Linked DNA regions of Homo sapiens. Each later gene encodes a partner of the first gene's protein in a complex. Each region holds a gene or a part of one and is shown on either strand. Other genes may lie near its edges.

Evidence for each region.
Region 2: the proteins of MLXIPL (region 1) and YWHAB are in contact, whole or in part, in a crystal structure (PDB 6YGJ), measured with the Homo sapiens proteins. Residues at the interface, in NP_116569.1 of Homo sapiens: Asp118, Ile120, Arg121, Asn124, Ala125, Trp127, Arg128, Ala129, Trp130, Tyr131, Ile132, Tyr134; in NP_003395.1 of Homo sapiens: Gly55, Arg58, Ser59, Trp61, Arg62, Ser65, Ser66, Gln69, Lys70, Arg129, Val178, Tyr181, Glu182, Asn185, Leu218, Gln221, Leu222, Asp225, Asn226, Leu229, Trp230.

The regions. Positions count from the first base shown.
Region 1 is NC_000007.14:73,620,941-73,629,068, reverse strand, and holds the start of MLXIPL (carbohydrate-responsive element-binding protein), read left to right. Parts: upstream 1-4,546; 5' UTR 4,547-4,576; coding exon 4,577-4,869; intron 4,870-5,004; exon of another isoform or gene 5,005-6,285; intron 6,286-8,128. UniProt on the Homo sapiens protein: Binds DNA as a heterodimer with MLX/TCFL4 and activates transcription. Binds to the canonical E box sequence 5'-CACGTG-3'. Plays a role in transcriptional activation of glycolytic target genes. Involved in glucose-responsive gene regulation.
Region 2 is NC_000020.11:44,902,441-44,909,032, forward strand, and holds the end of YWHAB (14-3-3 protein beta/alpha), read left to right. Parts: intron 1-457; coding exon of another isoform or gene 458-478; exon of another isoform or gene 479-1,552; coding exon 1,553-1,676; intron 1,677-2,527; coding exon 2,528-2,691; intron 2,692-3,560; coding exon 3,561-3,656; intron 3,657-3,941; coding exon 3,942-3,998; 3' UTR 3,999-6,092; downstream 6,093-6,592. UniProt on the Homo sapiens protein: Adapter protein implicated in the regulation of a large spectrum of both general and specialized signaling pathways. Binds to a large number of partners, usually by recognition of a phosphoserine or phosphothreonine motif.

The DNA.
Region 1 (8,128 bases):
TTGGTCTCAAAAAAAAAAAAAGAAAAGAAAAGAACAAGGGTGGTGGGAACTCAGAAATAACCTGGAGAACTTGGGGAAGATGTCATAGGTGGGACTTCAAGGACAGGTGGGCTTTCCCAACAAGGAAGGGCAGGCTGGGTGAAGAGCCCTGAGGACCAAGACTGGAAGGCAGAGAGGATGTGACATCAGGTGGGATGGCTGGGGACAGCCAGGTATTCACACCACAGTTAGGATCTTGTCTTGCATCTCCATGGACCATGAACAAGACTTGTTTGTACAGAGGCTGTAAACTGCTGGCTATAGTAACAGAGGCTAGAGAAGCAGCAAGAGCGTGAGCCAGCTTACATGTACATGGCTGTGCTATTATCTGGGCAATGGTGCCCTGAACAGGGGGTGCGGCGCCTGTGGTCCCATTACAAGTGGCTCACACTTCTAATCCCAACACTTTGGGAGGCTGAAGTGGGAGGATCACTTTGGCCCAGGAGTTTGAGGCTGCAGTGAGCTATGATTGTGCCACTGCACTCCAGGCTGGGTGACACAGCGAGACCCTGTCTCTAAACACAGGAGAAATCAGAATCTGTGGACGTCCTTGCATTTATTGGACACTCTAGTGTTTGGATGTTTTGCATTGTGCAGTCAGGGTTTGTCTTTTCAGCGGTTAGGCTTCTAGAGGTGTTATTAAGCCCTGGAGGAGGGCAGAAATGAGATGCAGATGCCTGTTGAGGGGCAATTCATGGCTGGGGAAGGAGGGATGTTGGGTGAAGGAGAGAATTCACTCATAATCTTCCCACCCGCTCAGATCCAGCTCAGAGGAAAGTCCCTGAAACCGCAGGAGACAACTCTGATGTTTTCAGAGCATGGGGAGAGCACGGTGGGGTGATCTGGAGACACGGCCAGCAGAGACTTGGAGCCAAGATTCCTGGATCCCCAACAAATCACTGAATTCAGGCCAGGCACAGTGGCTCATGCCCGTAGTCTCAGCACTTTGGGAGGCCGTGGTGGAAGGGTCGCTTGAGCCCAGGTGCTCGAGACCAGCCTGGGGAATATAGTGAGACCTCATCTTTACAACAGCAAAAAGAAGAAGAAAGAAAGAAAGCACTGAGTTTGGCCCTCAATTTTACAGGTAGTGAGACAGATCGCCAGTAAGACAGAGAGACAGAGATCTCCCCAGTGTTACTCATGGAATTAGCAGCAGAGCAAGGATCAATTCCGGTCTTCACCTGAGCCAGGGTCCCCGGAGCCAGGAGGTCCCAAGCCAGAGGCGAGGGCGGAGCTGACACTTCCTATCCAACCTCCTCCACAGCACCCCACCCGCTCCTCTTAGTCTCATGCCCCTTTCTTCAAGCATCCCCCAAGTCTCCAGGTACCCAGTGTGGGGGTTCAGAGATGCTAGGACACAGTCTTGCCTCAATGGCCTACGGAGGAATAGGGGGAGAAGCCAGACAGGCATATAGGGGTAAGTAATGATCCTGTCAGCCTCTGTACCAAGGGCCTCAAAAGACGGTTAACTGCCACCTGAGAGCTGGCCACGGTGGCTCACGCCTGTAATACCAGCACTTTGGGAGGCTGAGGCAGGTGGATCACTTGTGGTCAGGAGTTCAAGACCAGCCTGGCCAACATGGTGAAACCCCATCTCTACTAAAAATACAAAAATTAGTCGGGCATGGTGTTACACGCCTGTAATCCCGGCTACTTGGGAGGCTGAGGCAGGAGAATCGCTTGAGCCCGGGAGGCGGAGGTTGCAGTGAGCTGAGATCATGCCACTGCACTCCAGTCTGGGTGACAGACTGAGACTGGCTCAAAAAAAAAAAAAAAAAAGAGGGCCACTTGGGGATGGCTCTCTGAAGCAGGGCAGAGCCCCTCCAAAGGAGGGAGAGTGGGGTGAGCATCAGAACCCCCTTTCCTAACCTGGCAGGGATGGGCAGAGAGAATGCACATCCTACAGAGGGCAGCAGGGAGGATGGAGCAGAACAGCTGGGGCTCCTGGGAATGTGATGCGAACATTTGGCAGAGACAGAAGATACCCGGCCAAGGGAGGTGGGTGGAAGGGCTGGCCTGTGAGCAGCCTTGGATAATCACTTTCCTCCCACAGCCAGTGGCTGGGGCCCTCAGGGCACTGCCATTGTGATCCTAGGTGCTGTGTGATCCTCCTGTGGGCTGGAAGAAAGTGCTGCATGTCAACCTTTTCCAAGGCTGCCACACATGGGAAACCACCTCCTCCGCTTTCCCTAACATGACCACACACAGGATACCTGTCAGAAAGCCAGCAGAGCTTAGCATGTGCCTACAACTCTTTCCTGTCCCCACCCACTAGGGACATCCTTGGGGGAAATCTGGAAATCTACTAGACCAGGCTTTGCTGCTGCCCCTCAGAGATGCTTGGGTGTGTTTTTGCTCTCCTGTGCCTCTGAACCCATCTTTGAGGCTGTTAGTTAAACGCTCCAGTGAGGTGTCAGGTGTGAATGCCTCAGTCTGGTTTCTGTCCTCAAGGTGAGAAAAGAGGCTTCAGAAGCAGAAAGGCCATGTACAGTGGCTCACACTTGTAATCCCAAAACTTTGGGAGGCTGAAGCAGATTTCATCTCTACAAAAAAAAAAAAATTAGCCAGGTTTGGTGGCATGAGCCTGTAGTCCCAGCTACTAGGGAGGCTGAGGTGGGAGGATCGCTTTGGCCCAGGAGTTTGAGGCTGCAGTGAGCTATGACCGTGCCTCTGCACTCCAGCCTGGGTGACAGAGCGAGACCCTGTCTCTAAAAATATATAAATAGGCTGGGCACGGTGGCGCATGCCTGGAATCCCAGCACTTTGAGAGGCTGAGGTGGGCAAATCGCTTTAAGGTCAGGAGTTTGAGACCAGCCTGGCCAGCATGGAGAAACCTCGTCTCTACTAAAAATACAAAAATTAGCTGGGCATGGTGGCGGGCACTTGTAATCCCGGCTACTCAGGAGGCTAAGGCAGGAGAATCGCTTGAACCAGGGAGGCAGAGGTTGCAGTGAGCCGAGATCGTGCCATTGCACTCCAGCCTGGGTGACAGAGTGAGCCTCCGTCTCAAAACAATAAATAAATAGAAGTATATAGATAAATAAAAATACAAAGAAGCAGGAACAAAAGCTGGACCTCAGTGTCAGTGAGAGAAGGGGCTCAGAGCTCCTGGGTAGATGCCTGCCTAGGGGATGTCCACCTTCCAGTGAGCCACCCATCCCTACCAGTAACAGTCCCTCGAGGCTCCCCTTGGGCCTCTCTGTGCAGGTGAAGTAATGATCACAATTTTTTTAATATATATTTTTTCTTAAGTATTTTATTTTGTTTTTGAAACAGGATTTCACTGTTGCCCAGGGTGGAGTGCAGTAGGGCGCGATCTCGGCTCACTGCAACCTCCACCTCTTGGGCTCATGTGATTCTTCCACCTCAGCCTCCCGAGTAGCTGGGATTATAAGCCAAGCACGCATCGTCACATCCGGTAATTTTTGTATTTTTAGTAGAGAAGGGGTTTCTCCATGTTAGCCAGGCTGGTTTCGAACTCCTGGCCTCAAGTGACCCACCCACCATGGCCTCCCAAAGTGCTAGGATTGAAGGCGAGAGCCACCGCGCCCGGCCACCGTGTTGGCCACCATGTTAACTAGAGGTGTTAGCAACCTCCTGTGGGCCAGGCCCTTCAGGGGCATTACCTTGGGCTTACCACATCAGGCCCCTGAGAGTTGGGGGCTTCTACCTATGTGGAGGACCCAGAAGAGCTAATATGGGGGGCGGGGGTTGGAGGTGAAGGGCAGGAGTTAGGTGAGGGGAGATGGTGATCTCTGGCCTCACAGGAGGGTGCCCCTGAAAGAACAAACCCCAGGTCCTGAGGCGCTTTCAGGCTCAGGTGTGATAGGGGACCCTTTTGTTGTGGAGACAGGGTCTCACTCTGTCATCCAGGCTGGAGTGCAGTGGCGCGATCTCCGCTCACTGCAGCCTCAACCTCTTGGTCTCAAGCGATTCTCCCACTTCAGCCTTCGGAGTAGCTAGGACTACATGCACACGCCACCATGCCTGGATAATTTTTGTATGTTTGGTAGAGACAGGGTTTTGCCATATTGTCGAACTCCTGGGCTCAAGGAATCCTCCCACCTCAGCCTCCCCAGTAGCTGGTATTACAGGCTTTCTCCACTATGTCCGGCTAATTTTTGCATTTTTTTGGTAGAGATGGGGGTCTTGCCATATTGCTCAGGCTGGTCTCGAACTCCTGACCTCAAGCCATCCTCCCGCCTTGGCCTCCTAAAGTGCTAGGATTACAGGCAAGAGCCCCTGGCGTCCGGCCTGACCTTTCTTAATATCCCTTTGGAGCAAAGTAGGGGCGGCTCTATCAGGACTCCAAGGAAAGACGGGAAGGGAGATGGGGCCAACCCGCCAGAGCTCCAGAGCACCGGGTTCTCACCTGGCGTAAGGATTATGCTAATACAAGCCCCGCCCCGTCCCAGGCCCCGCCCACCCGATCGGCCTATGGTGTGGGGGCGGGGCTATGTTAATGAGGCCCGGCTGGCCAAGAGCTGTTCCCCGCGCTGCGCGGAGCAGGGACCAGGCGGTTGCGGCGGCGACAGCCATGGCCGGCGCGCTGGCAGGTCTGGCCGCGGGCTTGCAGGTCCCGCGGGTCGCGCCCAGCCCAGACTCGGACTCGGACACAGACTCGGAGGACCCGAGTCTCCGGCGCAGCGCGGGCGGCTTGCTCCGCTCGCAGGTCATCCACAGCGGTCACTTCATGGTGTCGTCGCCGCACAGCGACTCGCTGCCCCGGCGGCGCGACCAGGAGGGGTCCGTGGGGCCCTCCGACTTCGGGCCGCGCAGTATCGACCCCACACTCACACGCCTCTTCGAGTGCTTGAGCCTGGCCTACAGGTGAGGGCGGTTCCGGGCCCTGACGGCCTTGGCTTCCAGGTGGGGATGGGGGGGGGGTCCGGGGCAGGACTGCGCGCTGGGGCCCTCAACACCCCACCCGAGCCCGGTCCTGCGGCTCCCGGAGGCTCCGATCACGCCCTGGACACCCCCTTTCTCCCAGCCCCGAGGTCCTCCTACAGCGGCCCAGCCCGCTGGCCCCTGACGGACCCACGCATTTCTGATTCCCATTCCTCCCCCATTCCCTCTTCCCCGAAGCGCAGACCGCCTGCGCCCCACCTCTACCTGGACCTCTGGTCCCCTCTCTCTGGTCCCAGCCCCTCCGTCCCTACAAAAATGCCAGGCGCCCCTGGTCCCTAGGCCACCCGCGCCCATCCCCACTCTCCACTCTGGAGCCACTCCACCCGACCCCCTGCAGGCCTCGGCCTTCTCCCCAGCAGCCCCGGCCCAAGCCCGCCCTATTCCTGGACCCTGAGATACTCCCAGCGCCCCTGATTGTCCCAGTTCATAACCAAAGTGGACTGGAACTGGCCCACTCTCACGTCCACCTCCCCGCAATTGCTGAGACACCTCTTCTTGATCTGCTACATTAAGGGTGGCGGGAGGAGGATGTCCCAGAAATGTCCAAGAGGCGCAGCTCGCAGAGGTTACGCCGGTGCCCGGGAGGCCTGGGTTCGCCTACCCACGTCGCCACACTAGGCTGAGCGCCCGTCGCTGCCTGGGACCCCCGCTTAGTGCCACCGAGAGCGCACAGGCCGCGCCCCGCTGCCGCTCCACGCCCCGCGTCCCAGAGGAGGGCGCGAACCCGAGGCCTGGCCCAGTGCCCTGGAGCAAAGTTCCCCGGAGTTGAGGGGCCAGTATAAATTATCAACCGAAAACCCGTAGGGGAGAAAGGGGGATCGGCCGGCCTTGATCTTTTCTCTGTGCAAATATTCCTCTTCCTCCGCGGCGCCTCCTCCCCTTCTGAGAACCGCTGGCTACAGATCGGCACCTGCCGCCCTGCGGGGGAGCAGGAGCTGGGGTGGGGACTGTGAGGGGAGTGTTGCCTGCCCCCAACCGCAGCCGCCCAGCTGCGACCCCATTGGCTGGAGGCGGAGTAACCTTGGCCCACAAGCTCTGGCCCCTGGCCCAGGTCATGTTGCAACCCGATCGGCCAGGGCGTCGGACCCGTGTGGAAAGTTCAAATTCCCGTCCCTTCTCCCTCCCTCCCCAAATGTCACGCGACTGCCTGGGACAGGGCATCTAAGGTCCTGGTACACCGGATGCCGGCACTCCTCCTCCTAAGGGTCTCCCATTTCCCACCCAACCCCAACTTTGGCTGCTCATTATATACTACACATCACTCTATTTGGGAGGGGGCCTCACTTCCAACCCTGACGATGGGTGACCAAAGAGGAGAGGTTCTGGGGAGCTGGCAAGGTAAGGGACAGAGCGCACCCCCAAAATTGCCCCCCCACCCAGAGGCTGACTCAAGGCTGATGTAACCCCAGTCAGAGATAGCTGGGGTAGAGAGGACTGTGTTTTCTTCCCAAATACCCAAATATTAATAGTAAATCTCTGGCTGGGCACAGTGGCTCCTGCCTGTAAGCCCAGCACTTTAGGAGGCCAAGGTTCTCATCCAAGGATTGCTTGAGCCCAGGAGTTGGAGACCAGCCTGGGCAACATACTGAGAACCTGTCTCTACCAAAAAAAAAAAAATTTTTTTTTTTTTTTGAGACAGAGTTTTGCTCTTGTTGCCCAGGCTGGAGTGCAGTGGTGCCATCTCAGCTCACTGCAACCTCTGCCTTCCGGGTTCAAGAGAATCTCCTGCCTCAGCCTCCTGAGTAGCTGGGATTACAGGCGCCCACCACCTCCAGCTAATTTTTTGTATTTTTAGTAGAGACGAGATTTCACCATGTTGGCCAGGCTGGTCTCAAACTCCTGACCTCAGGTGATCCACCTGCCTTGGCCTCCCCAAGTGCTGGGATTACAGGCATGAGCCAACATGCCTGGCCAAAAAAAATTTTCTTTAATCAGCCAGGTGTGATGGCACATTCCTAGTACCAGCTACTGGGGAGTCTGAGGTGGGAGGATCACTTCAGCCCAGGAGGTTGAGGCTCCAGTAAGACATGATGGTGCCACTGCACTCCACCCTGGGTGATAGAGTGAGACCTTGTTGGAAGGAAGGGAGGGAGGGAGGGAGGGAGATGGGGGGAGGAAGGAAGGAAGGGAGGGAGGGAGATGGAAGGAGGGAGGGAGATAAAGGAGGGAGGGAGATGGAGAGAGGGAGATGGAGAGAGGGAGATGGAGGGAGGGAGGGAGATAGAGGGAAATGGAGGGAGGGAGATGGAGGAGGGAGGGAGAAGGAGGGAGGGAGGGAGATGGAGGGAGGGAGACGGAGGGAGATGGAGGGAGGGAGAGGGAAGGAGATGGAGGGAGGGAGGAAGGGAGAGAGGGAGGAAGGGAGGGAGGGAGGGAGATGGAGGGAGGGAGGGAGCTGGAGAGAGATGGAGGGAGGGAGGGAGATGGAGGGAGGGAGGGAGATGGAGGGAGATGGAGGGTTGGCTCGGTACCAGGAGAGCTTCTAGATTTCCCCATTTGGTAGTGGAAAAGCCCTGAGGCTTGAACTGGGACAGTGTTTTCATCCTCAAAGACCCCCAGTTCCAGGGGTCCCCTGGAGGGGAGCAGATTACAGGAGCTGAGTGTCCCAGGGGAGTGACTATATGGGAAGAGACAGTAAGGCAGAGAGTTCAGAAGGTGGTGGGAAGAACAGCGAGCTTGACCAGGGACCCACCTGAATCAGGGACCAGCCTGACCCAGAGACCAGCCTGCAGAGGCCTGGCAAGGTTTCACCCTCTGCAGGTTAGCGTGGGCAGAGGGAGGATCGAGGAGGCCGTCTTCCATGGCTCCGTGGGTGGAAGCCCCAGGGAGGTAGTTTCTGGAAGCTTCAAGGAAGCACTTGTTCATGGTCAGAGCTGGCTAGCTTTAGGAAGAGTGGCCTTGAGGGTGCAGGGGAGCAAACAGGACCTGGTTAGGGGGCAATCTAAAAGGAATTCCTGAAAGGTGGGAGGTGGGCAGCTGAACTTGGGGTTTTCTCAACCCCCTCTCTAAGTCTCAGAGTTTTCTTCTCCTTCTTATTATTTATTTATTTATTTATTTATTTATTTATTTTTGGAGACAGAGTCTCACTCTGTTGCCCAGGCTGGAGTGCGCTGGCATGATCTCAGCTCACTGTAATCTCCGTCTCCTGAGTTCAAGCGATTCTCATGTCTCAGCCTCCAGA
Region 2 (6,592 bases), on another chromosome or scaffold:
AAATCATAATCATATTGTCTTTCCCGCACATCCTGAGCCATTGGGAACTTTCTTTTTCTTCCAGGTGAAATCAGGTAAAAATGAACTCAGCGAGGGCTGCTTTGAAGGGAAAAGGAATTCACACTTGGGGACCTACCACCTTCCCTGCTGGCTGCCTTTCTAAATTACTGCCCATGACTCCTTTCTTTTGAAAACCAGTATAAAGCTTGTCAGCCATCAGGCAGCACCCCTTATCCCTAACCTATTAGGAGTTACACACTGTCTGTCTACAAAGAATATTAAAACGACTGCCGCCCCCTGCATCTTCTCACTTTGGTTGATTAAATCCCCTTATAACTAAGCTTTGCATTGAGCTTCTCTTTTTATTAGACTCATGGCGTAAGAGTGTCATGACTAAATTTGTTGCCTGTTGGTAATTTGGGGGTTTGTTAATGGTGCACTAATTCCTGAATGTTAGGTACATCTGGTATTCAGATGAAGTATGTCATGCATTCCAAGGGCAAGAAAGTTCCATAATTCATGAAATGTAGACCAACTTTTAAGAGCATCTGAAAGAATGTGAAGAAGAGCTTGGTACTTACTGCCTCTTAACCAGTTTTTCAGGATGCCACATTCTAAAACAACTCTTCGAAAATATTGCTCTGTATACGAAGCTTGGACTCCTTCAGAACTACTTTTGTTGTAAGCATAAATGTTTAAAGGAATTTATTATTAATAGTATTAGCTACTCTTTGAGTGCTTACTACGTGCCAGGCAACGTGTTAAGCGCTTTATGTATGTCAACTTATTTATCATTATAACTACCCTAGAAGATGGCTATACCCTAGAAGATGACCCTTCGTATAGCTGAGGAAAGTGAGGCTCAAAGTGATTAGGTAATTTGTCCAGAGTCATACAGATAATAAGTGGCAGAAGAGGGATTTCTACCCAGGTCAGATTGACTTTAAACTTAGTTCTTGGCAGTTTTGCTCTATTATCACCTTTTTCCTCCTAAGGAAAGATATTTTTTCCCCTTTAATTATAGAAGTAATACCAGTTTGTGGGTTTAAAAATGGTGGGGGGAACAAGTCAGAAGAATATAAATAAGAAAGTAAAAATCACTTCTAATCTTACCACCCAGAGAACCATTATTAACATACTCCTTCCAGGCTTTTCCCTTATATATTTGTGAGCATGTACACAAATGTATCTTAATGTTAAAATAGGATTCTTGTGGTATTTATAATCTGCTTTTTTTCCACTCAGATTTCTTTTGAGAGCCTTTCCATTATCTGTTTAGCTCTGCATCATTTTAAAGGCCTACAAAACATTTCATTATATGGCTATACTTTAATTATCCCCTATGGATGGTCAAAGTGATTTTTAACAGAAGAATACAGGCATCTGCTGTTATGACCTGGGCTAAACAACATTTAGTAGCTTGGATGAAAAATTGGTGTTTTTTTAATCTTCCAAAAAATTATTTAGAAGCAGTAGTGTATATCTTGAATCTCAAACATAGTTTTAACATCTCGTGAATAATTCTAAATTCTTAACAATGTTCATTTTTTAGGAGCTGTTGGACAAATATCTTATTCCCAATGCTACACAACCAGAAAGTAAGGTGTTCTACTTGAAAATGAAAGGAGATTATTTTAGGTATCTTTCTGAAGTGGCATCTGGAGACAACAAACAAAGTAAGTAATATCTTTAAAAAGAAATTCGACCAGTAATGGAGCCAGTCTTCTTTCACAGGGACTTTTTAACGATTTTTGCTTTGTTCGCCATAGACACCAATGTCACAGTACTAAGAATTTAAAAGACCACAGCATTGTGACGAACGGGGTCATGGGCGGGCAAATAAAAATTTATCTGACAGGGAAGTATGGAGGGCATTACAAACCTGGTGCGCAGTGTATTTAAAAAGATCTTATCTTGAGTATTATTTGTTAGCTCTCTTTTTAGCAGTGAACTTTTTATACTTGGTGGTACGAAACTACCCTAGTGATGCATTGCATTTATCACATGTATTACCGTGATGGTGGTAATCTTAACCACACTTTATTAAGTGCTTCTGTGCCAAGTACTTCCGAGTCTCACTTACTCTTCACACAGCCTTACGAGTTAGGTGGCAGGCTGCCCATTTTTCATATAAACTGAGGTTTATGGAGGTTTCTACTTGCCCCAAGCCACAGACCTAGGGAGTAAGAGTTGGGAATTAAAGTTTGGATCTATCGACTCTAAAGCCTGTGATGTTTGCACTAGAATGTATGGTTTTTCACATTCTATATTGTTAAAGGTTATAGCTGTATTTAACTGCTTTAGTAGACTTTGTCATAATTGTTTTCCCCCAAAGCATTTAATATACAACTTGGTTTAGAATAAATATCTAACAAATGTATAATTGAATGGCAGAGACACTGACACTTCATTTGATAGGTCATTGCTCCTGCCCAGTTTGGGACTGAGAAAATAATTTGATAGTTGGTCCAATGTGTGATACCTATGAAAGAACCGAGCCTTTAATATTTTCATCTTTATGTTACAGCCACTGTGTCGAACTCCCAGCAGGCTTACCAGGAAGCATTTGAAATTAGTAAGAAAGAAATGCAGCCTACACACCCAATTCGTCTTGGTCTGGCACTAAATTTCTCAGTCTTTTACTATGAGATTCTAAACTCTCCTGAAAAGGCCTGTAGCCTGGCAAAAACGGTGAGAAAGACCCTTTGTGATATCTAACCATAGCAAAACAGTGCTTGTGTTATTAACTTCATTTTATTCCTGAACATACTCATTGTCTTGGACTTTTTTTGAAAGATTTTCTGGGGGTGGGAGTGTATCTTTTATGAGATAAATACAGATCTGTTACTTTTTTAATTCATTCTCAATACCTTCTGCTGACTTTGTTTGATTACTGTTTTTTGCGGGTGGTTGTAGAAAGTTCCAGGTGAATGTAGTTAGTTGTTTCTTACCAAGCTTTGGGCCTTGGTTATACATTGTCATTCTCATGCCAAGATTTGAGGTTATAGTTGTATAAAAGAAATACACAGCACATTCTTGTTGTGTGTTGGATTACCTTCCATATTCTTCCTTTGGCCTTCTCTACATATTTTTTATAGTCCCTCAACATGCACACAACTTTTTAAAAACATTTTTATTCGGGAAAGGTGCCTTAAAGTTCCGTCACTTAAATCAGATTTAGTGATGTGAGTTTCCAGACATTTTGAGTTTTAGTTTAAATAAATAAATAATTTTAAATAGAAGATTGCTAGAAAAGTCTTTGGTAATTAAAAAATCACACGCGTTTGCCCAGAATGACTGTGCTAGGGTTAGCAGTAATACTGCTTAGTTATTAGGTACAGCAAAGTTCTTACCTTGGAGTTTCTGTCATTGTTGGTTGGTGCTTTGTAAATATGCCTTATACTTCTGCTGGAAACAGCTAACAGACAGGGTAATAATAGCCTAGGTTCCCCCAAAGTACTGTACAAGAAGATAAGTTATATTCACCTAGCGGGAAAAAAAGTGGGCTAAACTAGCTCCAGAGAACTTGTGAATTCTTTGCTAAAGGCTCTTTGTTTTAGGCATTTGATGAAGCAATTGCTGAATTGGATACGCTGAATGAAGAGTCTTATAAAGACAGCACTCTGATCATGCAGTTACTTAGGGACAATCTCACTGTAAGTACTACTTCCACAGGGTTTATAGTCTCTTTCCTATTCACCTACTTAATAATTCACTGTTATCTTCAAGAGGGGATTTGTACCATTAAATGTAGTTACAGTTTTAAGTTGTTAAATTTGTTATAAATGACTGCTGAAGTTTTGACCTTTGCAATCATCCCTGTCTGCAGTGACACAGGAATAATTTTAAACTGTCGAGTGAGATAAGATTATACATACTGGGCCACTTACCTAGGGAACTTTTAGTAGCCCTGCTTTGATTATACTTCCTTTCTCTTGCAGCTGTGGACATCGGAAAACCAGGGAGACGAAGGAGACGCTGGGGAGGGAGAGAACTAATGTTTCTCGTGCTTTGTGATCTGTTCAGTGTCACTCTGTACCCTCAACATATATCCCTTGTGCGATAAAAAAAAAAAAAAAAAAAAAAAGAGAATCGTACGTCGACTTTCGATTTTTCACAGCCTCAGCCTAGGAAAAATGGTTCATGGGATAAACAGCTGGTATTTGTATCTAAAACTCAGATTGGTCACATAAATGCCACGGCATTCCGAAGTTTTGATTTTGATTAACATTGACAGGATTACTGTGTGTTTAATTTTTTAAAAACTGAACACTGTGATTATGGGGTTTTGTAATTTAGCAGAACTCTTACTGGTAGAAAAAATAGACCTGAATTATGTGTAACTTTTTGGAAGGTTTAATCTGATATCAAAATAATCATTGAAATACAATTCCATTGTAAAGTTGTACAGAAAGTTATAGAGATTATATTGTGATGCTGGAACTTGGAGTGAGACACACATCATTTGGCATTTGAGTTGAATGGTAATTCACAGTAATGCTGCCGTTGTTCGGGACTTAAAGACACTTGACCTGTTTGGGCTGTTGCCACTTAAAAGTTCATGACCACAAATGTCCACAGTGTCTTCCTCTGAGGAAACTCGAATCCTGAAATGGAAATTCTTTGTGGCAGATAACTGGCTTATGACACCTTGAAAAGTTCAAGTGCTCATATAACACACCACACTGAACCCCCTTTCCTACAGCAATATGTTCACTATGTTACCAATTTGCAACTTGTGCTTCAATAGTGGAATCTACTTTCATTGTTAACACTGAGCTAAAGAAAAAAAGCCGTGTGTTTTATGAATGACCTTATCTGTTTCCTGGATAATACCTTTAAGAATAATGTCCTGAGTCAGGCGTGGTGGTGCGTGCATCTAGTCCCAACTATTTGGGAGGCTGAGGCAGGAGGATCGCTTGAGCCCAGGAGTTTAAAGCTGCAGTGCCCTGTGGTTGCACCTGTGAATAACTGCACTCCAGCCTGGGCAACATAGCGAGACCTCATCTCCAAAAAAGAAAACAAAAAACAAAAAAAGGAATGATGTTCTGTAGAGATGGCCTTTCACTTGAGGAGTACTCAGTTTTCAGGTTCTTCCTAGCTCGGGGCTTTTAAATTTTGAAATCTAAACATTCTTTCCCACCATCCTTTTTGACTGTTGACCTTGGTTTTCTCTTCTAAGTTTCTGTCCCTCTGCTTCCTTACTTTTTTTCCTTTTTGAATTCTATCTTTATCTGTCTTTTGTTCACTTTTTAATGCTATATATGGGCAGGGGTGAGAGACATTACTGAGCACCTTGGTGAGCAAGCCTGGCTTTAAAGATTGGAGAAGAGCTTCTGGCACCAGAACCCTGTCTTCCTCCAGTTCTCAACACGGTGTTGCTCTTCAGTCATACCGGAATCTGAATCAAAAAAGTATTTTTAAATATCCATGATTTCTCCCTGTATTGAGGCTAGCCCTGATCATGCTTTTTGTGCCTGTCACCAGGTCTCCCAAGTGCACTCATCCAGGTCAGTGCTCAGATGTGTTTAAGGAGACCCTATATTCAGGGAAGTTGCGTGAACACTGCAGTGGGGAGAATTGAGAATAGTCAGGCCTATCAGTCTCACAGAATCACCCCTCTACCTTTGATATTCCACTTAGCTGTAGAGTCCATCTGTTTGTCCATCTGCTGAAATGAGAAAAGAAAAATTTATGCACTGATTTAAAACAAACCAAAAAAAAAGAAAAAAACAAAAAAAAAAATCCCTCCTTTCTAGCTGAACAAAAATGTGCAGTTAATACTTGGCGCTTGAAAATGCAGTAGTGAATGTGGAACCAAGCCTGTCTGTATATCTGGTAGCTCTTTTCTTGCTTTGTTTTTTCTTACCAGTATTCTGCCTAACGTTTGCTTCTGTGATGGTTATATTGCCTAGCAAGCACACCCGTGGTTGTGAAAATAGTATAGCAAAAAAGAAAAATCCCCGGTTATTGATGTACTAGATTTGTGTATGTCTTTTAAACAGTTCTAGTTTCACCTTACACAGAATAATCAGGAAAAGTGTAAAAATTCAAAAGTGAAATAAAAATTTTATCAGTTAGTTGCCTGTGAATTGATGTGTCACCACCATCTCTGTTGTTACCAGACCTAGCTAACTATTCTGATCACACTTATTTTTAACTCTGTTTTCTTTAAAAATAGGCAAACAGTTTTATTTCATTATTTAGGACCAGAAGTCAAGGTGTTATCCAGGGGAAGAAATTACCATTAATTAAACAGCCTCTTTACACCCGTTACTTGATACCTCTCTACCTTCCACAACAAACCATGCAGGTATTAGGTCCTCTTTAGTGACTTCTAAGATTTGGTATGGACAGTTATTTTGCATTGTATTCGAGCCCACCATCCCTTCCCCATTTTTTAACTCTGAGATACAACCAAGCCAGTGAAATAGGTAACCTATGGTTGCATAAGTCTTGGTCATCACCAAGCTGGCGTCTCACCTGTCCTCACACTGTATGGTGGCCTGCAGAGCTGGTTCCTCACAGGATTTGCCCCTTCTGAAAACATCCACATTACCACAAGGAGAGAAAAATATCAGGATAGAGGGGT